Homo sapiens: one gene and its partners. The protein of the gene in region 4 interacts with the protein of the main gene of each other region in a biochemical or structural test. Each region holds a gene or a part of one and is shown on either strand. Other genes may lie near its edges. The genes, in order: SOS1, GAB1, KIT and GRB2.

What was found.
Region 1: the proteins of GRB2 (region 4) and SOS1 form a complex in vitro, tested with the Homo sapiens proteins (15 studies listed by BioGRID and IntAct, with this or other methods).
Region 2: the proteins of GRB2 (region 4) and GAB1 form a complex in vitro, tested with the Homo sapiens proteins (5 studies listed by BioGRID and IntAct, with this or other methods).
Region 3: the proteins of GRB2 (region 4) and KIT form a complex in vitro, tested with the Homo sapiens proteins (5 studies listed by BioGRID and IntAct, with this or other methods).

Annotation. Positions count from the first base shown.
Region 1 is NC_000002.12:38,985,033-38,992,058, reverse strand, and holds part of SOS1 (son of sevenless homolog 1), read left to right. Parts: intron 1-2,744; coding exon 2,745-2,789; intron 2,790-4,467; coding exon 4,468-4,586; intron 4,587-5,743; coding exon 5,744-6,235; 3' UTR 6,236-6,695; coding exon of another isoform or gene 6,696-6,749; 3' UTR 6,750-7,026.
Region 2 is NC_000004.12:143,332,673-143,339,890, reverse strand, and holds the start of GAB1 (GRB2-associated-binding protein 1), read right to left. Parts: upstream 3,016-7,218; 5' UTR 2,703-3,015; coding exon 2,631-2,702; intron 1-2,630. UniProt on the Homo sapiens protein: Adapter protein that plays a role in intracellular signaling cascades triggered by activated receptor-type kinases. Plays a role in FGFR1 signaling. Probably involved in signaling by the epidermal growth factor receptor (EGFR) and the insulin receptor (INSR).
Region 3 is NC_000004.12:54,723,938-54,730,963, reverse strand, and holds part of KIT (mast/stem cell growth factor receptor Kit isoform 1 precursor), read right to left. Parts: intron 5,108-7,026; coding exon 4,914-5,107; intron 3,747-4,913; coding exon 3,640-3,746; intron 3,549-3,639; coding exon 3,422-3,548; intron 3,142-3,421; coding exon 3,037-3,141; intron 2,954-3,036; coding exon 2,843-2,953; intron 1,630-2,842; coding exon 1,479-1,629; intron 1-1,478. UniProt on the Homo sapiens protein: Tyrosine-protein kinase that acts as a cell-surface receptor for the cytokine KITLG/SCF and plays an essential role in the regulation of cell survival and proliferation, hematopoiesis, stem cell maintenance, gametogenesis, mast cell development, migration and function, and in melanogenesis.
Region 4 is NC_000017.11:75,402,653-75,409,676, forward strand, and holds the start of GRB2 (growth factor receptor-bound protein 2), read right to left. Parts: upstream 3,027-7,024; 5' UTR 2,837-3,026; intron 1-2,836. UniProt on the Homo sapiens protein: Non-enzymatic adapter protein that plays a pivotal role in precisely regulated signaling cascades from cell surface receptors to cellular responses, including signaling transduction and gene expression.

The DNA of each region.
Region 1 (7,026 bases), on a different chromosome or scaffold from region 4:
AGTCATATGTCATCCCAACATATTCCACTCAAAGCAGTACAAAGTTCCATTGTTTAAGTTTTTCAAAAGGCAGAGTTTGACTAGAATTTTTTTTTATCAGTTATAATACTATACTATTCTTTTTTTACTCTTACGGTTTTTTCCCAAAATAATCTACTTTTAAAAACCTATAATTAATTATTTCAGCCAGTATCTGCTGCATATCTTATTCCTTGCTAAACACTTACACGTCTTCACTGGGAAAGCTTGCAGTCTTACTGAGAGATTAAAAATAATCATAGTGCAAAGAGATTCACAGTTAAACGCTAAAAATAGTGGTAAAGACATAAATACTGGAGAAGCTTATAGAAAGATGACCTCAGAATGAGCAAGAGTGGTCATGGAAAGCGTTGTGGCAAAGACAGGGCAGAGAAGTGGCCACGTACTTAGTGCTGCCACACATACATTCAAAGCCCTGCTCCACACCTTGCCCTGGCCAGGTCCACCTTTGAGGTGATGACGACAGTTGCTGAGAAAAGAGAAAAGACCACTGGCTCACTACTTGTTTCTGCTGCTATAATAGAGAGGAGAAAATGATGAAATGCTCTTTTTACCTTCCTGTTTGAAGATTGCCTGGTCATAAAAGGGAGTCAGAGGTCTGACTTCTCCATTTCCATCCCTTAGGGGACTCTTTAACAACAAAAAGAATGTATTACAAGTATGTCAAGCTGATAACGCAAGGCTTTTCCTCCTGGAAGATTGCTGTAGGTGATGAGTTTCTAATCCCAAATATATTTGCATTTACCAGGCTTTTGTGAGTTTAAGAAGTTATCTATCATATCTTTTTTTTTTTTTCTATAGAAAAATGCTTGTTTCTATCAAGAATGACTCCTTTATAAACTGGGGAGTATCTTTAAGAGTGGTTTCAACCCTGACTGTATAGTATCATCTGTTGAGGAGCTTAAAAAAAATATGTAGGCCCAGCCCACACTAGACTGGCATTGGTACCTGGTATCAGTATTTTTTAAAAACTTCCCATAGGATTCTAATGTACAGCCAAGATTGAGGACCATTTGTCTGTCATCTGGGATTATGCTTAATAAATTAATACTGTTTTTTAAATTAATTAGATTTCACTTCTAAGTCATTATCAGTAAATTTACTCAGTATCTAACTGACAAGAATTTCTAGCATATATTTCTTGATTAGTGCATGTAAAATTCTAAAAGAATTTCTATAGTATTTTCCAGGCAATAAGACAACTAGTGCCCCAAATTTACCAAATGCATGAGTCTAAGCCTGTGCTATATATAAATATACTCAAAGCCAAGTTTACATCTGTGTACACAAGTGTGCATGCATATGTACAATTAAAGACTATAGTTGTAACAGTCATGAGCTTGTGTTTTGATTTTACTCCTATTCCTGTATTGTATTAAGTGTACTATCATGTTCTTGAGGCATATCTCCAGGAGATATGTTTATTTCTTTTCCAGGAAAAGTGGGACATATATAAGTAGGGTAAACGCTAGAGCTAGATACTCCTTTAATCTCTATTACGTCAGATCTCTGGCTCCCTTTTACAACCAGGCAATCTTCAATTATAGGTGGCTAATAGGGAAGAAAATCATCGGCAGAGCAACAGCTTCATGTAATTTCAGAGTAGAAAAATGAATTTTAATCTTCTGAAAGGTAATATTAGAATTAGCTGGATTGCTACACTTAGGAATCATAGGTTCCAAATAAATATCAGTACATACGGAAATCAGATAATGGGACAGATTATTTGAAATTAGGGCTGCCTAGAAATCTGGAATGTGAGATCACCCTCCTTCTGACCAAATATGCTTGAATAAACTTAATATTCCAAATTATGTGAGGGATTGCCTATTGTGCAAAAAAAAAAAAACGAAATCTGAATTTAAAAAAAATTACCACAGTCTAGTATTATTTTAGTCTCTTGGATGTTATAACGTTATCTGTTCCATCTGTTGTTAATATGAGACACTGTACAAACAAACAACTATATTGATTTAGAATCAGTATAGATCACCTAGCTTTTTGTCTCAATTTTCCTACTTTAATGCTCTTGGGGCTTTCGCTTTTGATTTTCAGTTTTTTCCTTAAAATAATTAATATTGTTGAAATTAGACTTTCTAAATTTAAATTTATCAGAATTTCCTATGTAAAATGAGTCTAGGCACCAAATGTTTAATGACTTTAAAAAAAATGTTTATGACTATAAAAGGAAAAACCCTGTATCAATTTCAAGCTTGTTTTATATCCAAAGTGCTAGTTATTTTGTGATGAGAATATATGCCCCAAGAACATTTTTGAAAGACATATAATTAGTAACTTTTTTATTTTTCAACTTACATAAAATAAACTTATTACTTGTTTCACAAGTTTGAGTTTTCAAAATAATATTTACTAAATGGCATATTTATATACATCCAGCTGAACTTTTTGCTTGAATTGGGTTTCTACATTTTAAAAAGTCTTTCAGTAATATACGATTTTTTTATGAATGTTTTTCATTTAATAATTATGAAATCAAGTAAAGCTAAAAGGAATCTTAAATTCCCAATATGATATCATTTTTTTCTTCTCAAAAGTAAGTAGTAATGAGGTTTTACTATAAACTGTTACAGCATTCTTTAAAACGACAATGACAATAACATTTTCATCATAATACAAATTTTTGCAGATGAGTTGAATATATCAATGAAAGAAAAAAATCTACTTTTTCTTGTTTCCTTTCACAGGCAATGATACCGTCTTTATCCAAGTTACTCTGCCCCATGGCCCAAGTTAGTATATTTGGTTTAAGACTCATAATTCTTGCTTTGGCTTTAAAAATCAAACCAAGTGTAACCTTTCCTGCTAAAACTCTTCTTGGGTCTGGCAGCATTGGTACCTTGCTTGCAACATCCTAGAAGTGAGGCCTTCACTTGTGCTATCTTTAGATCATAAGTGATTTGCTTAAATTTATATATTTCTCATGCTTTTTATAAAACCTTGTTTCTCTCTTAAAAGAACATATTAAATAAGTGGCTTCCACATTTAACCATTTCTTTTTTCCAACTATAGAGTTCTAAGTATATTTTAATGCTCAACTTTGAAAAAAAAAAAAAGGCAAGAGCATGCATGCGCATATGGGAATGCTGGCAGCTACATGCAGTTTCTAAATCACAAAATATACTTAGCCTGATGGCAGGATAGATTATAGACAACTGCTTTTGACTTTAGAAGAACTTTCTTATAATTGTAATTATTCAAAGTATAGCCTAAATACTGATAAACAAAATAAAGTTCCATTTTAATTGTAAGGTAAACTAACAAGTCACTAAATTCCATTATTTTAATTATTTAAGCTAATATTTTTTTGCTGTCCTTTCATACAATTTCAAAATATGTACAATGGAAAATACTAGTTACAAGCTGAATTAACTATATTCTTAAGAAAAAAGGTAGGTGATCAAAATGTTGATCATTTAAATAATATCAGTACACAAAGTACTCTTTTTAAGTTCTATATTTTATAACATGTGACAAAATAAAAAGCTTAATGCTTAAAGGGAAAAAAAACTGCCAACTATAATTTTGAATGATGGTTTAAGTATTTTTTTCACATCTTTTTTTATAGTAGGTATAAACAACTAACTTAAGTGTTGTTTTCCAAAGTGTATTTATATGCCTACCTTATGTTCTTGTTACCATAAATGTCTGTAAGAGAGGTTCTAATTAGTAGCTTTACTTACTTTTTTTGTGCCAGTCCACCAACTTATTCTTAAATCAGATTCACTAGATTTTAGTGTAATTTCTGTTTTCATGGTCAGGGCTGCCTCCGTTGTCTTGAATAGTGCCATCACCGTTAAAATTTTTGGATTTAGAGTATAATGAGCCTCTTTTTGCTTACAGGCAAAGGGGAGCCTATAACTAAACAAAATGAGGAGAGGCCCCTCACCTAGACACTATGATTCTTTCCCTTGCATCCTTTGAGAGAAATGCTAGGGAGAGACATTGGAGAGAGTGGTTAAGAGCACACACTCTACTCCCAGGGACTATCCAGTAAGGTGGGGAAGTTCTATAAATTCTAATAAAGTCAAAGAAAAAAATGAACCCATTATAGAATCTAAAAATTACCATTCCAAAGATTTTCAGTAGCTCACTGTCTCCCAGACATCTGAGAATCAGACTCAATTAAAAATTTCAATAATAGAGTAACCATGGGAATGTTATTTTGTTCAGGCAAAATAACAGAATACCTTAGGCAGCTTTTTTCTAAATATTCTGCTAAAAAATGTCTGCATGCTTTTATGGCAGTTTGCTTTAATGAAATACTATTCGGTATTGGTTTATTGAACAGCTTTTGGTATTTCTACACATTACTTTTAATTATAAGCAATTTCCAGCTAAGACTTTTCAAGGTAAATAAATGAAATAAAATTCCTGTGGACTTTTTCTTAAAAATTTAACATCCCACAGGATCTGCTTCTGTATCATCTATAAGTTTAACCAAAGGCACTGATGAAGTGCCTGTCCCTCCTCCTGTTCCTCCACGAAGACGACCAGAATCTGCCCCAGCAGAATCTTCACCATCTAAGGTAAAGTAAGAAATCTTGTTGTGTAGAAATTGGAATCATTACAGTTCATTATAATAAACGGCTGTCTAGTTTAGTTCTCACTAGGATAAGTTAACATTTCAGAGTATACAGGCTTAATAGTTTAAACAAGGATTACATATAGATTTAGCATGCAGTAATGTTTCTTTCTTCTGAAGGTAGTTTTTTGGTATGCATTCAAGACCCTTGTAAACCTAAGGCTATGGTTATTTTCAGAAAAAAACAAAAGTTTTAATCTGTAAAGTAAGAGGAATTTGGTTTCAAGCAGTTCTTTAAAAGCATACAGAGAAAGTCCTGAAGCTTTGTATGAAGGCACATTATAAGTCAAACTGTATTTTGACATATGCTAAAATTTACTTATCTGAGCCCTTAATAGTAAATCTGACATACTTTTAAATGGAGTTTTCATGAAAATTCTGGGTTTGGAAGAGACCCCAAAGGCTCAAAATAGCTATTATTTCTACTTATTTAATTTTGTTTTTTTCTTTTTGGCCAGCTGTTAAACTTAATTCATTAGTTCTTAAGCTGTCCAGAGTGCAGAGCACCAGGATAAGTCAAGACAAGACACTCTTTGTAGAACTTCATGAATGTTAACATAGTTAACTTAAAATTATAAAATAGGTACTTTATGCTAAATTAGAAATGATCTTAGATTGAGTGATAAGCTAAGCAAGCAGTAGCAAACAAAATTTTGAGGAAAAAAATTTAAGTAAAAACTACGGCAAACTTTTTTTTTCTATGAATTGACAGAACCTCCCATTTAAAACATATGCCAGCCTTGGCAACAGAGCAAGACCTTGACTCTACAAAAAATGAAAAAAATTAGCCAGGCATGGTGGTACATGCCAGTGGTCCTTGCTGCTTGGGATGCTGAGGTCGGGGGATCACTTGAGCCCAGGAAGTTGAGGCTACAGTGAGCCATGATTGCACCACTGCACTCCAGTCTGGGCAATAGAGCAAGGCATTGTCTCAAAAAAAAAAATTTTTTTTTAATTAAAAAGAAAACATATGGCAAAACTCCCTGTTCCACACTTAGCATCCTGCCAATAGCATGTTTGAAAACCCCAACTTAATTCTTATAGTCATGATACTTCATAAATTTATTAATAAATGTGTATTTTATTCTTTTCATTTGTTAGATTATGTCTAAGCATTTGGACAGTCCCCCAGCCATTCCTCCTAGGCAACCCACATCAAAAGCCTATTCACCACGATATTCAATATCAGACCGGACCTCTATCTCAGACCCTCCTGAAAGCCCTCCCTTATTACCACCACGAGAACCTGTGAGGACACCTGATGTTTTCTCAAGCTCACCACTACATCTCCAACCTCCCCCTTTGGGCAAAAAAAGTGACCATGGCAATGCCTTCTTCCCAAACAGCCCTTCCCCCTTTACACCACCTCCTCCTCAAACACCTTCTCCTCACGGCACAAGAAGGCATCTGCCATCACCACCATTGACACAAGAAGTGGACCTTCATTCCATTGCTGGGCCGCCTGTTCCTCCACGACAAAGCACTTCTCAACATATCCCTAAACTCCCTCCAAAAACTTACAAAAGGGAGCACACACACCCATCCATGCACAGAGATGGACCACCACTGTTGGAGAATGCCCATTCTTCCTGAGTTCCTCTGTACTGGGATGTATATTTTCCTAGCCCCAAATCCATTGCTGGCAATGGATGCACTGAATGTGCCAGCACTGAGGAGTTAAAATGAGAACTCCAAACACTAACGACTCTTCTTCAAGATGCAGTATAAGACAATGAATTTTAACCTAGATGTAATTATACAATGGAAATGGTATTCCAGTTTAGAATATGGAAAGACCGACCTAGAGGAATTGGACAACTGATTGCACCTGAAAATCATAAAGGGACTTTTTCTGGCCAATAGGCAGGAGTCCTCTTTTTGTGAAGTGATCTTTTGTGAAGTGATCATTAAAGGGATGGAAAACACAGTCTAGTGTCCAGCAGGCCCACATGACAGTTTTTGTAATTCAAATTATGCACTTTTAAAAAAAAAAACTTAAACAGGGATCTTAATATCTTCCTTTGTTTTCCTTTGCTTTACTCTTCTACTTTAGAATATTTTCTTAAAAATCACTCAAAGGACTGTGAGGAAAGGCTGTGGTACCTGACCTTGTTGAAATCAAGGCCCGGCACTGTACTACAGGCCTGTTTACAGATTATTACGGTGAACTGAATGGGTACCGAGGCTTCACCAAAGAGGTACTTTTTTGTTGTTGTTGTTGTTTTAGGAATAATTGTACCAATTTTAAGAGCATTCCCCCCACCTGTCCCCACACACCCAAACAAAATGTGGTGGTGTTGCCTTCAAAAAAGAGAAGTTTTGTGTCATTAACATGACAGAAGAACTTTTTAAAAAAAAATAACTGTCAACTATTCTATTTGCAT
Region 2 (7,218 bases), on a different chromosome or scaffold from region 4:
AAATCCTAGTTTCTCCCAAGCTATTAGGCACATTCATCCTCCTGTGGAAAACACAATGTAGGCAGCCCACTGTCTCTCTCAAATGTTCCCATAGTTTCAGTCTACATTGAACTTGTTCCTCAGAACAGCCAAAAAATACCCATACCACTCAACTTAGACACACAGTCATATACCACTTTGCACTGTTGGCTTTTTCACATATACTTGTCTCGTGGTCCCAAAGACTCAAAGAGCTACTTAAAGGCAAAGACTAGGTCTTACATTTCTTTAGCACTGTGCACCTGATCCATAGTCCACCTCATTCTTGTATTCTCAACTAATATTCAGAGTCAGGAAAAGTTATAATCTGAAAGGACCTTTATTTTGTTGTTGCTATTTTTGAGACGGAGTCTCACCCTGTCATCCAGGCTGCAGTGCAATGGCACAAACTCTGCTCACTGCAACCTCCACCTCCCAGGTTCAAGCATTTCTCCTGCCTCAGCCTCCCCAGCAGCTGGGATTACAGGCGTACACCACCACGCCCGGCTATTTTTTGTATTTTTAGTAGAGACAGAGTTTCGCCATGTTGGCCAGGCTGGTCTCCTGACCTCAGGTGATCCACTGGCCTCGGCCTCCCAAAGTGCTGGGATTACAGGTGTGAGCCTGAAGGACCTTTAGAGATAACCTAGTCTAAGCTCCACATTTGAAATGAACTAGGTGAGAGTCGTTAACCTTTTACAGTCCAATCAATCAGGCAGATCTGGGTTCAAATGCAGGACTGTTTTCTGTAAAATAGAGATGACACCTACCTCAGAAAACAGTTGTAATGATCAAATTATACTTTCCTTTTTGTTTTTCTTGTTAAGACATAATCTTTTTGGCTGATTTCTTTCCTGGTTAATAGTTCAATTGAATTCTAAGCCCAAGAGGCAGGGCTTTTTTCCTTTTTCCTACTGTATTTTGTGACCTTATGGTTGGTGTCTAATACAGTGCCTGGCGTCTTTTGAGTGAGCCATGAACTAACCATGTGAAAGAATGAATTAAACCTATATTATCACTTTCACGTTCAGCAAATATGTTATTCTTTAATTCCTCCAAGAATCTGTTTTTCCTAAATTGGGCCTTCTCAAAACAAATATATTTATCTCCCTACCCCTTTCTCCCTTCCTTCTCTGTCACATACACACACACACACACACCCCTACCTTTCTCTTTAGAACAGCTGGAAAAAAAAACACTGCCTCGTTCATATTTTTGGAATAAAGTTAGCATTTTTACTAGGATATTCAGGAAAACTGATAGATGGACAGGATTTGGAGGCATTACACATCTCTGGAGAGCTTTCTTATGATTTGTGGCATCGAGTCTTTCAATAAAATTACTTGTCTATAATAAATTCTGGCAGAAAGTAAATCAGAAATTCACTGGTGAGTTGTCAGTGAAGTTAAATACTTCACTCTGTGTACTTCACTCTGTTCTATACAAGCAAACAGTGACTAACAGGATTAACCTGAGCTCTAATACTGGGTGTAGATATTCCTCAACGACAAACGGGTTCCCTTCGTACAGGCATTAAATTTATATTATATTTAAGGGGGCATAAATTTTGCTTTTGCAAACACATTTTACTAGAAAAATATTTGATCCAGATGTCAGCACAAAAGTGTCATTTCTTTCCTTTGCAAGGGAGCAGCAACAAAACAACCAATGGGGAGGAAGAATAAGATCCCAGACCTCTGAAGAGGACACAGGTTTCCACTAAAGCAAGGTTGATACTTTCAAGGAATATTTTTCCTAACAGCTAAAACGGTTTAACACATAGCATCTTGTATCAATTACACAAACACCATTAAAGCCACTCTGGTTCCCTGGGAAAGGACCGCAACTGAAATCCCTTCTGGCTTCAGCTGTCCCCTCCTGCCGAGTTTGACAGCACATCCAAGGCGCCCAAACACCAGCCACTAGGCTCCCCCCCAGCGCCCTCCTCTCGCAGCAAACCGCCAAGGCTCCCGGGCCAAACTCCAAAGTCCCTCAATTCAAAACCGCGAAAATGTGAACCCTGCTAAGCAAACGGCAGGGCGCGTAATAACTTTTCTTTCTTTCCCTTTTGCGCGCGTTCGATATGCTTGTCTCTACTACCAACTCCTCAGCTCCACAGCCCGCTTCCCGCAACCCATCTCGAGGGGCGGAGGAGAGGGAGCGCCCACCAAAGAAAGGGCTAGTGAGCCCTAAAACCTCGGCAGTTTTCCCGGTGCGGGAGCTTTAGCACACATCAGCCCAATAATCAGATGCAGGAATAAAGCAGGAAGAAGGCTCCTCTCTCCATCGCACCCCATCCTTCCTAAGGAAGAAAAAAAGCATGCAGCAGGAGTTTAGCTGGACGTCTAGGTCCTTTTATGGGGCGAACAGGCCCGCAAAGCAGGCTGTCTGGAACCTGGAGGAAGAAAGTTGTCCGGCCAAGTGGATGCCTGGGCGTGAGGGAGTGCAAGGCACCCTGTCCCGAGCCCGCCAGGGGTAGGGGCCAAGGGGAAAGAGACCGGCATTCGTTTAAGAACCAGCCCCGCGCGCGGCCAGCTGCAGCCGCCGGCGAGCCGACTGGGGAGGGGTGTGGACGCCGAGGCCCGCGGAGTGGTGCCCGCAGCTCTACTTACATAACGCTTCAACTTTTTCTCCGGGGGGGACTTGCGGAGCCATCCGGAGCAGACCACTTCACCACCGCTCATGGTGCGCGCGTCTCGGGCTCCGGGCCGGGCAGCTGAGGGGCGGCGGGCGCGCTCCCGACACAGCCGACGCCTGCCGAGCGCGCAGTGGCGAGAACCTAGCTCTCCTGGTCGCGCACCCCGGACGGACTGGGCGGACAGACTCCACGGTGCGCGGGTTCCACGAGTTCGAGTCTCTCCTCTGCAGGCCCACGAACCTGAACAGAACGCGAGCCGGGGCCGCGGGCGCGCCGGCCTCCTTTCAGTGCGCCCGCCTCGCCTCCAGACGTGCCGTCTCGCCAGCTGCCTCAGCAGCGCTCGGACTCAGCGGGACTCTGCCCCGACTCGGTGCCGGAGCTTCTGTCCTTTGCGCTCCGCCCCCTAGGGACAAGACCTCCCCAGAGCGCTTTCCGAAACAGACACAGCGCTGCTCACACACACACACACACACACACACACACACAATGCCCCGCGCGGTGCCCGCTCGCCCGCCCACCCGCCCTCGGTTTCGATGCGCCCGGAGCGATCCTCCTTCCCTCTCCTCGGGGGAGGGTGGGTCACTTCGCGGCGCTCGGTGAACGCCGAGGAAAGGGGAAGCCGCGAGCCGCCTACGGGCAGCGGGCGCGGGGCTGGTCCCGGGTCACAGAGGGAGCCGCAGGGTTGGCAGCGAAGCGCGGGGCGTTTCTGAGCGGCGGGCGCAGGGAGGTCGCAGGTCAAGCCGGAGGGTGGGTCCGCTCTCGCGGCCGCCGAAGAGGGCGGGGAGCAGCAGAGGAACGAGGCGCTTGGCGGCTTGGCTCCTGGGAGGGATCCCGCTGTCCCGTCCCCTCGCGCTCCTCCCCCGCCGCCTCCCCCACCCCGGGGCTCGCGGCAGGTCCTGAGCGGCTCGGCCCCAGATCCCGATCCCTCCCTCCCTCTCCCGGCCGCCGGGCTCCTTCTTCCTCCCTCTCCTCCTCCCCTTCCCACGTTCAGGCCCGGCTCCGGTTTCTGCCCAGACTTTCTCTGAAACTCCGCCGGAGTGCTTCCAGCCAAAACAACAAGGGCCGGGGGAGGAGACGGACGAAGGGAGGGAGCAAGGGAGGGAGGGAGCGCGAGTCCGAGAGGCACCCTGGGATCTGTAGTTCGGGAAGCAGGAGCAGGGTCCTCCGCCGTCCGGCGGCCCCCAATCGGCTCCTCGCCCGGGAAGACCGCAGAGGCCTCGGCTAGGGCAGAGGCACCGGGGCTTGGGCGCGGGGAAGACTGAGGGACATTCGAATGTTCAGTCCGGGGCTTGCCATCTTGACTCAGCCCGGTGCCAGCTCGGAGCTTGTGCTGTGCTCGAGATCAGGAGTTTCGAGGGTTTTCTTTACTTGAGAGCCTGAAAGGCAAAACCGCGGGGAGACCACCATCCTGCCGGTCCCCGCCGCGCGAGATTAAAGGACAGACCAAGAGGGCGCGGGAGCTACCAGCTTGGAGGGGAGGACAGATGGGGACCCAGGGCTGGCCAGGGCTGGTCTCTGGAGCTGTTCTGCCAGAGTGATGGGGGCGCTTGGCGAGGCCAAGGATTTGGTTGGGTCCTATCTCTGAGACATTTTGAAGTCTCACACCCCTTCCATTTGTTGCCTATTCCACTTAACTTTGTATTTGTTTGAAATCTACTGTTCGGATGCTGGACTAGAAGAGGGACACTTGGCCGGGCGCGGTGGCTCACGCCTGTAATCCCAGCACTTTGGGAGGCCGAGGCGGGCGGATCAACTGAGGTCGGGAGTTCAAGACCAGCCTGACCAACATGGAGAAACCCAATCTCTACTAAAAATACAAAAATTAGCCGGGCGTAGTGGCGCGCGCCTATAATCCCAGCTACTCGGGAGGCTGAGACAGGAAAATAGCTTGAACCCGGGAGGCGGAGATTGCGGTGAGCCGAGATCGCGACACTGCGCTCCAGCCTGGGCAACAAGAGCAAAACTCCGTCAAAAAAAAAAAAAAAAAAAAAGAGAGAGAGAGAGAAAGAAGGAAGGAAGGAAATTTACTGGGTACCCTAGTTCTATTTGCCTACTTCCTTGTGTGTTTCACAATTATTATACTGGTCCTGAGTTTAACATGATTCTGTAATAAACATCTTCTCCAATTTATTTGTGAAAAAGCCCCAAAGCCAATTTCAGCAGATAATATAATCAGATAAAAGTGCTAAAAATATGACGACATAAATGAGCATTTCTGGAAAGACATAACTTCAGTCATTTTCTTATTAACACAACATTCATATTCTGAAGCTCCTCTGAGTTTGAAAATGTTAGATGATTGTAATAAGAAATTAGGTGCTGGAGTGGTGACAAGACAAAGATCCCTGCATATATGGAGGTAGTGGCATAGGGTAGTAAGCAAATAAAGAGTCAACAAAACTACAGATTGAGACTCAGTCTCAAAAAAGAAAAATCTGAAAAAGCCTGGTTCCCACTGGGGTTTAGAGACCGTCATCTTTTGGCAGGCACTTAACAGTATCACAAGGGCGGAACTTCTTGCAGATCTGGATGCACTTTTCAGGTCATCAACTGAGTAGTCGTGACCTTGGGTAAATTACACAATGTCTCTGAGTCTCAGTTTCCCGATATGTGAAATGGGAATTGCAACACCGATTTTGCAGAAGTTTAATGAGAAATAGAAATGGTAGTGTTGGCCAGGTGCGGTGGCTCACGCCTGTAATCCTAGCACTTTGGGAGGCCTAGGTGGGTGGATTGCCTGAGCTCAGGAGTTTGAGACCAGACTGGGCAACTCAGTGAAAACCCGTCTCTACTAAAATACAAAAAATTAGCCGTGGCGGCGTGCGCCTGTAGTCCCAGCTACTCGGGAGGCTGAGGCAGGAGAATCGCTTGACCCGGGAGGCGGAGGTTGCAGCGAGCCGAGATCGCGCTACTGCACTTCAGCTTGGGCGACAAAGCGAGATTGTGTCTCTAAAAAAAAAAAAAGAAAAGAAAAGAAAAGAAAAGAAAAGAAAAGAAAAGAAAAGAAAAGAAATGGTAGTGTTGGTCGGTTAGTCGGGCGCGATGGCTCGCGCTTGTATTCCCAGCACTGTGGGAGGTCTAGGTGAGCAGGTCACTTGAGGCCAGGAGTTTGAGACCACCCTGGCCAACGTGGTGAAACCCAGTCTCTACTAAAAACACAAAAATTAGCCGGGTGTGGTGGCACGCGCCTGTAGTCCCAGCTACTCGGGAGGCTGAGGCAGGAGAATCGCTTGAACCCAGGAGGTGGAGGTTGCAGTGAGCCGAGATCGTGCCACTGCACTTCAACTTGGGAGACAGAGCGAGACTGTCTCTGAAAAATAAATAAATAAATAAAAAGGAAAATGGTAGTGTTGGTTGGGCGTGATGGCTTGCACTTGTAATCCCAGCACTTTGGGAGGTCTAGATGAGCAGGTCACCTGAGGCCAGGAGGTCGCGACCATCCTGGCCAACGTGGTGAAAACCCAGTCTCTTCTAAAAACACAAAAATTAGCTGGGTGTGGTGGCGCGTGCCTGTAGTCCCAGCTACTCAGGAGGCTGAGGCACAAGAATCACTTGGACCCGGGACAGGGAGGTTTCAGAGAGCTGACATAGGGCCACTGCACTCCAGCCTGGGTGACTGAGTGAGAGTCTGTCTCGAAAAAAAGGAAAAAAGAAATGGTAGTTTTAAATATCAGGCACATATTAGATATTGTAGGATTTTTGCTGTTTGTTGCTGTATTTCTTAATGTTCTTTCTGAAACATAAACAAGCGTAATTTTTATGGCAGCTAATAAACCAAAGCACTTCTTTTTAAGTATGTGAATATAAATCATGCCACAAATCTTCCAAATGAAAATAAACCATCAAATTTGTTTTCCTCTTCTCCCATAGGCAGCATGTAGCTACATTGAGCCAAAAGTATAATTAGCATTAGTAAGACTAGTATTGTTGAGTAGTTAACTATTGGCTTTAGCAAATTTACCATTTCCTACACTCTTGTTATAAAGTTCTTTGTAAATGGAAAATTGTAATATATCTTGTATTATTTAGCTTTGGGAATTTCCACAAATTTTTTTCTTTATTTCAAATAAGGCATTCAGTTATCTCATTCCTATGTAAAAAATCTTTAAGTGTTTTTCCTATCTTCTACTGAGTTGTTTTAGGCTTGTATTTCTAGAAATTAAATCAGGGTTGAAGAGAAATTGAAGATAGATATGTCTCCATGTATATATTTTAGAAAGGAAATTTGCCTTATTTTTATATGTCATGTTTAGATTATTTGTTAAATCATATTTTATATCTTTATGCCTTAAAAGGCACGCTGGAAAAAGTTATTATATGTTAGTATCTTAAATTTTATTCATACAACGAATATTTATGGGATGCCTATTATATGCCAGTCCCTGAGGACCCAGGATACAGTAGGGGAAAGCCAGACCTGTTCCCACACTCCTCTTTCCTAGAGAAAAGCTTTTGCAGATAATTAACCCCATCATTTTGGCAATACAGTTGATAAATGCTATGGAAGAAAATATAGTGTTGTTTGGGCATATAACAGAGGATGTACCCCCCAGGAGTAGGGC
Region 3 (7,026 bases), on a different chromosome or scaffold from region 4:
AAGACAAAGAAGAGCTTCCAAGACGTGTTATGCAGGAGGCAGAGATCGTTAACATATAGTGACTGATGGAGGAAGGTTTAAAAAAAAATCAAGTTGGTTCAGATAAACACCAATAATTTGGATGATTTTCTGAACCATCTGGACCTCTTCAATCTGCAACATTTGGCTGGAGACTCTTCAAGATTTCTAGTACTTCCTGCTTCTGATTAGCATAGAAACACCATGACAACAATCTCCTTCAGAGTGTGCTGGTGGTTCCAATCCCATATGGGATCCCAAAGCACAAAGAACATCACACAGGATTGAACAATTTAGGCCATTATATCAGAAAGTTAAAGGATATATATAGGGCCAAGGTTTCGGAAAGAAGCAAAATGGCTCATTTCTTCATATAATGAGCACATGCCCAGGAGAAACTAACAAAAAGTGGTTTTGTACAGTTTCTACTACCACTTTAAACTACTCAAGTTTATAGGATTAAAAAAAAATAAAAAGTTTCACCTGGGGTTTTAAACTTTAGCCAGAGGTACAGAAAATGGCTTTAAGGGGTAATTGCCCATCAATAATATTTACTGAGGTCTCCTTGAGGACCTGGTGTTAAGAGTTCAGGAGGCAATGTCTTGCCATTGCAAGATGCAGTGGATATAAAGTGCATGAAAAGGATAGGAGAAATCTACCACACAACTGCAGCAATATACAGTATAGGGGACTGGGCAAAATAACCATGACTTCTGTTGGACTGGGTACATCTAGGAAGTCTTCTCAAATGGTGGCCCTTAAGAGCATTTCCAAAGAAAGAATAGGCAAGATATGAGAAGAATTCTTTTCTGGTTGTAAGTCAAACTCAAAGCTCTTTATACATGATTCAAATTCAGAATGGCATCAATGATGAAAGAGATGAGAATAATGTCCAGAATTTTTAAAAAATGTGCTGGAGTAGTTATGTCTTTTAATAGCATGATGAAATAAAAAGGGCAAGAGGCAAGGTATACAGGAATAATCCAGAGGTCGATGGCAAGAAGCCTACATGTGGAGATATGTTCAGAGCTCTTTGTCATTCTGCTAAAGGTTTTAAAGGGACTTTACTGTGGCAACTTGAGAGGCTTTAGCATTTTCCCTATAAACAGTATCTCACTGGAAACATGCATGTAGTACCAAGCTCAATAGTATAAATGGAAATACATGCAGGACAGAACCGTAAGAGAAACAGATATAGAATGCATTCAGTTGCATGGAACTAAAGTGTAGAAGAAAACTGAAAATACATTTTTAAAAAATCAGCAAAAATCTAGGTTTGAATCTTTAAAAACACAATTTAACTTTCTAAACTGTTAATCACATTTAAATGATTTAATAATTTTGATTTCATACCTCAGAGTACCTCAGTTCATTTTTTAAAGAATCAGCCTTGATTGCAAACCCTTATGACCCCATGAACTGCCTGTCAACAGCTAACTATTTATGTAAATCAGTCTTACCAGGAAGACTCCTTTGAATGCAGAAGATTCTTATAAAGTGCAGCTTCTGCATGATCTTCCTGCTTTGAACAAATAAATGAATCACGTTTTCTTCTCAAAAAATTCAAAAGATCACCATAGCAACAATATTCTGTAATGACCAGGGTGGGCCCTAAAAGCACATAAGAAAAGGTTAGAAAGAAGGTGAGATATATAGATTAATTCTGCCTCCCATAAAAATACCCAAGGGTGGTCATGGCCATTAATATTCAGCTTCAGTGGATCAGACTACTTAGTCCCAATACAATCCCATATATTAACACTGCTTATCAAAAAAGCAGCCTTATGTGGAGTAACATAAAACAAGCAAGCCTCTTTTAACCTGAATTTCTAAGTGACATTAGTATTTGGAGCCAAGCATGACTGCTGGTTTTACAGAGAGAAGTTACTGCTTTCAAAGATTCTACTATTATCAAGCTTCCTACGTGAATCCTCTGGTTCACTTCTGTTTACAGCAGGGCTTCACACACTCTCTGTAACGTTATTATGGAAATAATGAAGGCACAAACTGTGGCATAGTGGGAAAATCAGCCACAAGGAGCAGCCAGCTGGGACAAGACTGGAAAGTGAGTGAAAACCTAAAATGACCTGTGTTCTGAGCGCTACTAGTTGAAAAATTTTTTGGTGCTATGAATGTTTAAACTGTAGTTTAGAAGTAACAGGCAACTAATTAACTTGGGTAAGAAATTTTCTCATGAACAATTCATGATGTGGTGAAGCAACATTTATGGGGATTATTGGAAGACATGATATAAGGCTGTCAACTTTATCGTGGATCTCCAGAAACAGCTCATTTTACACATCTTTGTTTCTTTCAACTGAAATACTTTCTGCAAACATCACAGACATCCTTGATGGGAACTTCAACTAAGGCTTCAAATTGGAAACTTATTTTTAGAGAAGTGAAATGTTTGCCTCATTTGGTGTATATTTGAGAACCAGTAGGCTTAGGCGCCTGTTTTAAATTGTAGTATGCAAATTAATATTAACCCTTTCAGTGGCTACATATGATCAAGAAATGTATAAAGCTTACAAGATAACAGAAGCCTTCTGGTCGGGATGAGATATTCAAGAGGCTGATGTCGTTGATGTTACAAATACGACAATAACTAGGGTATGTCCTGGGCTGTTCTACCCCATAATGATAAAATTAAAATCTGCATTCTTAAGAACAATGAGGAAAACAAAATCTAGCAAGAGAGAACAACAGTCTGGGTAAAAAAATCTTCCAAGCAGTTTATAATCTAGCATTGCCAAAATCATATTAAAATGTCATGTTTTGATAACCTGACAGACAATAAAAGGCAGCTTGGACACGGCTTTACCTCCAATGGTGCAGGCTCCAAGTAGATTCACAATATTCATGTGATTACCAAGGTAACTCAGGACTTTGAGTTCAGACATGAGGGCTTCCCGTTCTGTCAAATGGGCACTCGCTAAAATTGGAAACATGCATTTTAGCAAAAAGCACAACTGGCAAACTGATGTCAAGCGCATGCAGTACCATACAGGAACTTACGCTTGAGCATCTTTACAGCGACAGTCATGGCCGCATCTGACTTAATTAAGCCATAAGCAGTTGCCTCAACAACCTTCCCGAAAGCTCCAGCACCCAGGGTTTTCCCTGTAGGAAGGAAGACAACAAGGTAAGTGGTGATGGTGCTGGTGGTGGAATTGAAGGACCATTTGTGCAGTTTCAAAATCAATAAAGGAATTAAAAACAATGTTGTCCAGAGACATTTTCCTACGATGTTCTCTATGGCAAACCTATCAAAAGGGGCGCAATTTCACAGAAAACTCATTGTTTCAGGTGGAACAAAACAAAGGAAGCCACTGGAGTTCCTTAAAGTCACTGTTATGTGTACCCAAAAAGGTGACATGGAAAGCCCCTGTTTCATACTGACCAAAACTCAGCCTGTTTCTGGGAAACTCCCATTTGTGATCATAAGGAAGTTGTGTTGGGTCTATGTAAACATAATTGTTTCCATTTATCTCCTCAACAACCTTCCACTGTACTTCATACATGGGTTTCTGTGGGGAGAAAGGGAAAAATAGATCACCTTTTAATAATTATTGTCTCAGTCATTAGAGCACTCTGGAGAGAGAACAAATAAATGGTTACCTGTAAATATTTGTAGGTCAGAATCATCACAATAATGCACATCATGCCAGCTACGATTACGAAACCAATCAGCAAAGGAGTGAACAGGGTGTGGGGATGGATTTGCTCTACAATGGAAGAGAAATGTGGAATCACAAACTTTGGCAGGATGGGATCTCTACCACAGCCACTCAGTCCCAAACTGACCCCACCTCCCAACTCACAGCCCATGGCAGGATGCAAAGCTATGTGAGTCTCAGAGCTTCACCTTGGTTACATTGTACTCTTGTTATTCAAATGAATCTTTAAAAATATAACTTGAAACCACAATACTGCAGAATAGAAGTTGAGATTTCTGTAGAAAAGGAATAATTTATGCTGTTTTTCAATGAAAAGCAACATCTGAATGCACTTTATACTTCAATCAAATTCCTGCCTTGTACAACTTTAAAAAAAAGAAGCTTCCTTTATGGACGGTTTATATTTTCTTCTTTAAGCTTTCCTGTATTTTCCAAATTTTCTACACTGAGCATGAATGTCTTTCACAACCAAAAAAAAAAAAAACATTTTTAAGGTATTCTTTTCGTTGCCCTGTCTGAAAAACATGGAAGATTCTTCCCCTCACTACTCAAAACCTGAGAAAACACGCCACTTTTTGGCACTAGTCTTTGCCGACTCAAAAAACGAAAACAACAAACAAACAAACAAAACCCCAAGAAGGCCTAAAAAGTAAGTGCCCAGTTTCTTTGTCTTCCCACTTTGTACCAATTCATCAGTTTGCCCAAAAGATCTTTTAACTTGTTAAGAGAGTTAGTCACACATGAATCAAATTTTAAATATTTTAAAGAAATAACTTGCTAACATGACTTCATAAAGGCAGTGTTAACTTTTGGATACAGTGTCTGGCAAAGTGTTAAAATAATTCATTTTAAATAACTGAAATTTTTAATTGAATTTAAATTTTAGATTGTTCTAATTCTGTTTGGGTGTAAGGTAAATATATTCCCCCATTTGCTTTCTCTAGCTCTTTTTAATGGAGACAATTGTAAATATACAACTAATAGAGACACACATACATATAAAATATATAAAGTAGCATGGTTAAAATTGCTCTGGTAAAAGCATATACTTAACAAGCTAGTACAAAATGAAACTTAGTGAGTTTGATGACAGTATGGTGTGATGCATGTATTACCAGAAATGACATGGTCAATGTTGGAATGAACTTAAAATCATGACTGATATGGTAGACAGAGCCTAAACATCCCCTTAAATTGGATTAAAAAGAAATATACCTTTGTTGTTACCTTTAAATGCAAAGTTAAAATAGGCAGAAGTCTTGCCCACATCGTTGTAAGCCTTACATTCAACCGTGCCATTGTGCTTGAATGCACTAGAATCTATAGAACTCTGAACCACTAGCTTTCCAAACGGTGGCCCAGATGAGTTTAGTGTCTGCACATCCACTGGCAGTACAGAAGCAGAGCATCTAAAGGGAAGAAAACAAAAGCCCTGGCTTACTCTAGGAAAATAAATAAATACATAAAACACTTGGGATGTGGCATACTTTTAAAACAAAGTTAGAGGTTCATAATCAACAGAAAATGTCCTTTTACAAGTGTCTAAGAATAAGCACTTTGGTGACCTAGTGAGTGAAAAAAGCACTGGGGAAGAGAAGGCAGAGGAGGCTTCGGAGTCAGATGCGGGTTTGAATCCTGATGAGTTTTTAACCCCCACCAACACTGAGTTTCTACGACTGTAAAACAGGGATAGTAATACCCATTGCAGAGGGTTACTGAAAGGATTGGAAAGGAATTCAATAAAATGGCAGGCATATATGCTGGTACACAGTAGATCCCTAAAATAAACAAGCTTCAAAAGGGTACACGAATGGTTGAAAAGAAATAGCATAGAGGAGGAAAGCATAAAAAATCTTCAAGGGGCCGGGCGCAGTAGCTCACACCTGTAATCTCAGCACTTTAGGAGGCCGAGGTGGGCAGATCACCTGAGGTCAGGAGTTCAAGACCAGACTGGCCAACATGGTGAAACCTCGTCTCTACTAAAAATACAAAAATTAGCTGGGCGTGGTGGCAGGCGCCTGTAATCCCAGCTACTCGGGAGGCTGAGGCAGGAGAATCACTTGAACCCTGGAGGCAGAGGTTGCAGTGAGCCAAGATCACTCCATTGCACTCCAGCCTGGGCAAGAGAGTGAGACTCGGTCTCAACAACAACAACAACAACAAAATCAAGGATGTAGACCAGAAAATAGTCAAAGTGAGGACTGAAGTTTGAGTTCTAAGCAGGAAGGCCTAGTTATACTGCAGGTGGCTGAGACCACCACTGCAAGGGATCCTTTTCATGAGCCAGACCCCGACTTCCCTATTCTAAACACCTAGCTATTCCCTGTTTCCTTTCTTAACACCTACATACATTCATTGTTTATTCCATCTATTATGTGTTTCTACCCACTAGAACAAGCTTATCCAACCTGCAGCCCACATGTGGCCCAGGACGGCTTTGAATGCGACCCAACACAAATTCATGAAGCTTAAAACATTATGAGATTTTTTTGCAATTTTTTTTTTTTTTAGCTCATCAGCTATCGTTAGTGTTACTATATTTTATGTGTGGCCTAAGACAGTCGTCTTCTTCCAGTGTAGCCCAGGGAAGCTAAAAGACTGAACACCCCTGCACTAGAACATAAACTCATAAAGGCAAAAAGACTTGGGTGTGTTCTGTCCATTAGAATAGTGTCTGGTACACACTTGCCACTCCCTGTGTATCTACTGAATGAATGCCTGTAACTACAGGGCTTGCTTCTGCTGTGGCCATTCCTCCCAGGGGCCTTGAACCCTACTTAGTATTCCCCAAAAGAAAACACTCTCCTAAACCCCAGCTGAAAACAGCAATCCGATGTAACCCCTTCCAACTTGTTGTGATAAAGAGGCTTATTCCATGAAAAATAAAATTTCTGCGACCATACTAACTATTCAATTGTGATGTTAACCTGGGCTTTTAAAGCCTGAGCATAAAATAGCAATTGATGGATAAAAACAGCTGTGGTGACCCCATTTTCGTCTTCAGGTAATGCAAAAGGGCAATTTAAGGCTTAAGTGTGGATGGTGAGGGGCAAGCAGCACAGTGCCAGATGTTCTCTGTTCAGGGGCTGGGCACATTATCAAGAAGAAACCCTTTTTAAAAGCGGTCGCTTGCAAATGCCATATGTATGTTGTAATTGTGCGATCATTACTTTTTGGTAACTTGGCAATTAACTACTGAGGTAATTTTTTCATGATAACTACAGTCACATTTCCCACACACATTACCTCCTGTGTATAGAATGGAAATCTAATTACTCTGTCCTGCAAAATTGCTTTATCTACCTGCAGGCTAGAAATTGCATGATAA
Region 4 (7,024 bases):
AAAAAGATCTCCCAGTGATTTTTATGGATACTAAATTTTAAATAACTGCTATACCATAAGGATGCCTTAACCAGATTTTAAAATTTGCATTCCAGATAATGCACTACAATGTCCTTGCATGAAATGAAAATAATGCATATTGGCCGGGCGCGGTGGCTCACGCCTGTAATCCCAGCACTTTGGGAGGCTGAGGTGAGTGGATCACCTGAAGTCGGGAGTTCCAGACCAGCCTGACCAACATGGAGAAACCCTGTCTCTACTAAAAATACACAATTAGCCAGGCGTGGTGGTGCATGCCTGTGATCCCAGCTACTAGCGAGGCTGAGGCAGAAGAATTGCCCGAACCCAGGAGGTGGAAGTTGTGGTGACCTGAGATCGTGCCACTGCACTCTAGCCTGGGCAACAAGAGCGAGAATCTGTCTCAAAAAAAAAAAAAAAGGAAAAAGAAAATAATGCGTATTCACTTGGCACAACTAGGAAAAAGGCAACTTTGACCAAAAAAAATATATATATATATAAATATATATATATATACAGACTCTCAAAAGCCATTCAGTAATGGTGGAGAGTTCCTCTGAATTAAGCAAGTATTAATTTCTCTCCGGAGGGCATGGTGACTCTCTATTCTGTATTACTTCATTTCTCCAAAATCCATTCCTCTTCTGTTGTATGTGTAACAATTAGAACTCTGATGGACAACATGCAACATGATAACAGCAATTACTGAGAAGAATCTCTAAGTACCATCAACCAGTAGTATTTAAAACCCAGCAAGCCTCTCAAATCTGAATAACTTGCTGACGAAGTAAAGTGCCTCAAACATTTAAACGTTTGAGTTCAGGCCGGGCGCAGTGGCTCATGTCTGTAATCCCAAGGCTGAGATGGGCAGATCACTTGAGGTCAGGAATTCGAGACCAGCCTGGCCAACATGGTGAAACTCTGTCTTTACAAAAATACAAAAATTAGCCAGGTGTGGTGGTGAGCACCTGTAATCCCAGCTACTCGGGAGTGCGAGGCAGGAGAATCGCTTAAACCCAGGAGGTGGAAGCTGCAGTGAGCCGAGATCGCACCACTGCACTCCAGCCTGGGCGACAGAGCGAGACTCCGTCTCAAAAAAATAAAATAAATAAATAAATGCTTGTGTTTAGTAGAAGAAAGCTGATTATAAGAATTAACTCTGGCCGGGCGCGGTGGCTCACGCCTGTAATCCCAACACTTTGGGAGGCCAAGGCGGGTGGATTACCTGAGGTCAAGAGTTCAAGACCAACCTGGGCAACACAGTGAAACCCCATCTCTACTAAAAATACAAAATTCGCTGGACATGGTGGTGGGCGCCTGTGATCCCAGCTACTCGGGAGGCTGAGGCAGGAGAATCGCTTGAACCCAGGAGGCAGAGTTGCAGTGAGCCCATATAGCACCATTGCACTCCAGCCTGGGCAAAAAGAGCAAAACTCTGCCTAAAAAAAAAAAGTCACTGAGCTGACCCAATCTTCCTATTATAAAGACATACTAGAAGAAAACATAAGCAGGCACAGAAGCATAATCTTAAAAGAAAAAGAGTAAAAGACAAAAATAATACAAGCAAACCACACTTGCGACCTAGTGGCAGGACTGATTTCTTAGGGATGAATTCAATCTTTTGAGCCTCCCCGTTCTCAGAGAGGGGACTTCAGCCTCCCACGGCTCTCTAGCAACCCTTCTGGCTGACTGCAGGGAACGCAGGGGACGCGCAAAAGTAAAGGAACGAAAGCAAGGAAAGAGAGTCTCTTCCCGAGGAAAAAGACGGAATCTTGAAATGAGAGAAAACGAACAGCACGAAAGGGAAGAAACCTCGAAAAATTACGCCAGAGTGGGGACTACAAGGAGGAAGGGGAAGTACATTAGAAAAAAAGGGGGGGGTGGGGGGAGGAAGGGGCAAATGACTTGCATTACACAAGCATTTCGTGTCCCTAGTGGAAAGGACAGAAGCAGATAGAGAAGGAAGGAAATAACTGGAGAAAGAGGAGTAAGAAAGCCAAAATAGACTAATGCTAATTTCTCTCATGTGTCTGACATTTCGGAAAGTCAACAGCATCAAAAAGAGACAGACCTCAAGTGCACTTCAGTCCCCTGCAAACTGCACTTTCACAGCGTTTGAAGCCAGCCTTGAAAAACTTTCTAAACAAGCCATAACTCATGTGTGGCTTACAATCATAGAGAGGGCGCGCTGCAAATGAAAATTACCAGCGCCCGCTCTCGCCGCAATCCTTCCTCGGTGCAGTCCAACCTGCTACTGCTGAATTTTTCTTGACAAATATTTTTCAAATAGTTTTTTTTTTTAAGTGTCAGAATAAAGGTATCTCCCCCGGCTCCAGCAGCAAACGTTCCACCCCAAAGTGGATTCCCGCACAAAATTAAGCCCAAAGACGCCAGGAGATGGTGACGTGGTTGCCGTGCAGGTCGAAGGCACATCAATCACCACAGCTGCAGCCCACACCAGTCCCCCGCCGCCAGGCTCGGGTAGACTGACTCGGTCGGCGTTCGGCCCGCCTGGGCTTCCCGGGCCCCTTCCGTGCAAACCCTCCCGATGAAGGCAGGGGACCTCGCCAGAGAACCCCGACCTCTTCCCCCGGACTGCCCAGAGCCAAGAGCCGGAGGAGGACGGTCCCCAGGAAGGAAGCGCCCCAAAAGGGGAAACGTAGAGTCCGGAGCCCCGGGGATTGCGCTCCACGTCCCAAGCCTCGCCGCCCCGACGCGAACCCCGGGGCCGGTCCCGGTTCCCCCGGGGCCCACTCCCGCTGTAGAGCCAAGAGGAAAAGGCACGAGAGAGGCGCCGAGCGCAGCCTCCCGTACTCACCGTGGCGCAGCTGCTCCGCTCAGCGTCCGGCCCGCCCCTCCACAACGCTGCGAGCGGCCGGCGACCCCAAGGCTGCTCTGCGAGGGCAGCGCTTGCTCCCGCCGCCGTCACCGCCACAGGCACAGACTCTGCCACAGCCGCCGCCGCCGCTGCCGCCGCCCGGTCGCCGAAGCAGCAATACCTCCTGGCTTCCGCTCCCCGTCGGTGTCCCGCGAGAACTTCTCCACGAGGCCCCGCCCCGCCCCCGCGAGACTTCCCCCGGCGGAAAAGGCCCAGAGCGCAAGCGCTCCTCCTCAGCCGGGCCCCTGCGGGTAGGGAACCAGCTAGGTGTCAGGGCGCATGCGCCAGACCTCCCCGCAGCAGGTGGCCTCCGCACGGCTCCGCCCCCGGGTCGCCGTAACCCTCTCGGTGCCAGAGCGGGTAAATGACAGCTTAGCCCTGAAGGACTCTTCCCCCGTCTAATCACTTTATTTTCCTCTTCTACCAAACCTAGGCAGTTGGATGGGTAGGGGCTTGGGGGAGGAAGAGATCTTCCAGAATGAAGCACTCCAAATAGAGGACCAGGTCTTAAAATATTTGAGAATCCGGTCCGTACAAACTCTGCTGTGTTGAATGATTGGTGAGTTTGTTTGCTCATTGATTGAATCACTGCAGAGTTTGTACGGACCGGATTCTCCAATATAGGCCGAACACTGTGCTGGGGATAGAACAGAAATCTTGGCCCTTAAGGAATTCACGGTCTAGGAAGTAGAAGAAAAATAAACAAATAATGCCATAAGTACTGTTATAATTATTTGGAGTTTGCTGAGGAAGCTAAAAAAATGGAGGGGGTACTGCTACACTGCCCATTGCAGAAGAGCCTTCACAGATGTGATGCGGCGATGTCTGATCTGAGTCTTGGAGGATGAGTAGGAATTTGCCAGGCAGAGAAGCCAGAGTAAGGGCATTTCAGGGAAAGGGAATGGCACGTAAGTACAGAGGCTAAGTACAGAGGAACGGAGGCGTGAGAGAGAAAGTCGTGTTCTGTGCAGTGCTAAGTAGTTCAATTCCTGTATGAGGCCGGTGAGTACGGGGGAGTGGCAGAAGATGAGGCTTGGAGAAATAATTCTTATTTTTCAGTTCCCAAAGCTCTTCCAATTAAAGGATAGAACACAACACACCTAGCGTTACTGTGCCTTCTGGAAGCCAACAAAATAGCGCTGAGGTGAGAATAACCAAGCATCTGATTCTATAGAGAAAAGAAGCCCATTGAAACACAGAAAATGAATTGTGCTTTCACCAAGTATTTATTGAGCATCACCTGTGTGCAAGGGGCTCTGCAGGGTCAAAGACCAACCAGATGAAGCCCCTGCTTTCAGTGCTTTGTAATCTAGAGTTGCCTAATCTGTAAGACAAGCAGTTGGCCCCAAGTGCCACTGAACTACACATAGGGATGGCTGAGGAGGGAGCCAGTACTTGGTGCTGAGCTAATCAAGAAGGATTTGGTTTGAACGGCAAAGTGAAAGCAGGGAGGAAAGAGGAAAGAGTAATGGAATCAGCCTTTTGTTTTTTTTTTTTTTTTTTTTTTTTGAGACGGAGTTTTGCTCTTGTTGCCCAGGCTGGAGTGCAATGGTGCGCGATCTTGGCTCACCGCAAGCTCCGCCTCCCGGGTTCAAGGGATTCTCCTGCCTCAGCCTCCCGAGTAGCTGGGATTACAGGCATGTGCCACCACACCCAGCTAATTTTGTATTTCTAGTAGAGATGGGGTTTCTCCATGTTGGTCAGGCTGGTCTCAAACTCCTGACCTCAGGTGATCCGCCCACCTTGGCCTCCCAAAGTGCTGGGATTACAGGCGTGAGCCACCATGCCTGTTTTTTTGGTTTTTTTTTTTTTTTTGAGACTTGCACTGTTGCCCAGGCTGGAGTGGAGTGCAGTGGCATGATTTTGGCTCACTGCAACTTCCGCCTCCTGGGTTCAAGCATTCTCTCACCTCAGCCTCTCAAGTAGCTGAGATTACAGCAGCCTGCCACCACACCCAGCTAATTTTTGTATTTTTAATAGAGACAGGGTTTCGCCATGTTGGCCAGGCTGGTCTCGAACTCCTGACCTCAGGTGATCCACCTGCCTCAGCCTCTCAAAGTGCTGGGATTACAGATGTGAGCCAACACTCCTGGCCATCAACCAATGTTTTTGATTAGTCCAAGCCCCAGTAATTGGGGGGAAGAGTGATGAGAGAGAGGGGCCAAAATGCAAAATGCATGGCTTAGGTGTCATAGTCAAGTGATGGGCAACCTCTGAAGGTTTCTGAGCAGGAGGTGTCTGATATGAGGTGAAAATAAGAAAAGGACCCTCTATTTACCACTTGATGCATACTTAAGTCATAGCGCCTCCACAGGGTGGGTAATATCCCCATTTTACAGACTTGGAAACTAAGCCTTAGAGAGGTTAGTAATTTACCCAAGGAAGCCAAAATATAGTAGACCTAAGATTTGGACTAAGGCCTGTCTTGTTCTAAAATCCTCATTTTTTTCCCGCACTATGCCACTTTGTTCTAAAATAGCAGTCAGAAAAAAATAGAAATGGAAGGGAGGGACTTAGCTGCTAAGCAGAGAGGAAGACATGAGGGAAGAATTGCAGTTTTTTGTTTTGAGTGGGCCTGGATAACAGGGAGAACACAGAAATTTGCCAGTCAAGAGGCATAGCTGACTGGAGGGGGCAGGCACAGAGAACAGGGAAGGGCAGGTGAGGAGATGATTGTAAGGGTGAAGGGAATTTTTCCCTTCCACTCTGACAGTTTGAGTCTGCTGAAATAAACTGGCAATAGATTAACAGGAGAAAGCACATACAAATTTACTGACATGCAGTGTGCATGGTTACCATACAGAATATGAGACTCAGAGAAGAGCCAGGTGGCTGAAGCTTAAAGAGCACCATCTTTGCAGAGGAGAGGGAGATGAGCGGAGGTCAGCAATACTGAAAGGTAGTCAACTATTTTTAGGGAAAAGGAATGAGCCCAAACAATGCCTGGGACAAAGTTCCTCTGAGCTCTGGGAGCTGGAGGTTGTGACAAATTTCAGGAAGGTGAGGTGCAGGACTTCACTGTAAATAAAGGTTGTCTTATTATGCAGATAAAGTCTCCTAAATAATCTCAGCTGTCCTCAGGAGAATAGATGAAAAGTCTGTTTGGATGTGGTGACAACTTTTAGTCTTTTCTCTTCTCTGGTAGTTAATATTTCCTGGTTATTTGACGAGAGTCCTAGGGAGGAAATTTTAAGACAGTCGCATCTATTTTTTTTCTTTTCTTTTCTTTTTTTTTTTTTTGAGATGTAGTTTCACTCTTGTTGTCCAGGCTGGAGTGCAATGGCGTGATCTCAGCTCACCGAAACCTCCACCTCCCAGGTTCAAGTGATGCTCCTGCCTCAGCCTCCAGAGTAGCTGGCATTACAGGCATGCACCACCACGCCCGGCTAATTTTGTATGTTTAGCAGAGATGGGGCTTTTCCCTGTTGGTCAGGCTGGTCTCGAACTCCCGACCTCAGGTGATCCGCCCGCCTTGGCCTCCCAAAGTGCTGGGATCACAGGCGTGAGCCACCACACCTGCTCTTTTTCTTTCTTTCTTTTTTAATGGATCCCTTCACAGATTTGCATGTCTTCTTGCTCAGGGGCTATGCTAATCTCTGTATCATTCCAATTTTAGTATATGTGCTGCCAAAGCAAGTACACAATTGAATTTCTTTTGGTTTCTCAGTCAGCTAAGGGAACTTTCAGACAGCCCCTGCATGCATGTGGGGTGGTGAAACAAGACTTTAAAAAGTCCTTGGTTCTGAGGCAGCTTGTAAGTCCTTCCAATTTCCTTTCATTCAAAAGTGCTCAGAATGCCAGAGGAGCATACTTTGGGGTATCATTCTCTGAGCCCCAACATGATGATGACTCATTTTTGGAAATGCAGAATTCAGCATTCCAGGAGACATGCAGGTGGAAATATTCAGTATGCTGTTGAAAAGCTTGACAAGCTGGACGCAGCGTTCTCTCCCATAATCCCAGCACTTTGGGAGGCTGAGGCAGGTGGATCACTTGAAGTCAGGAGTTTGAGACCAGCCTAGCCAACATGGTGAAACCTCATCTCTACTAAAAATGCAAAAATTAGCCGGGCGTGGTGGCACATGCTTGTAACCCCAGCTACTCGGGAGGCTGAGGCAGGAGAATTGC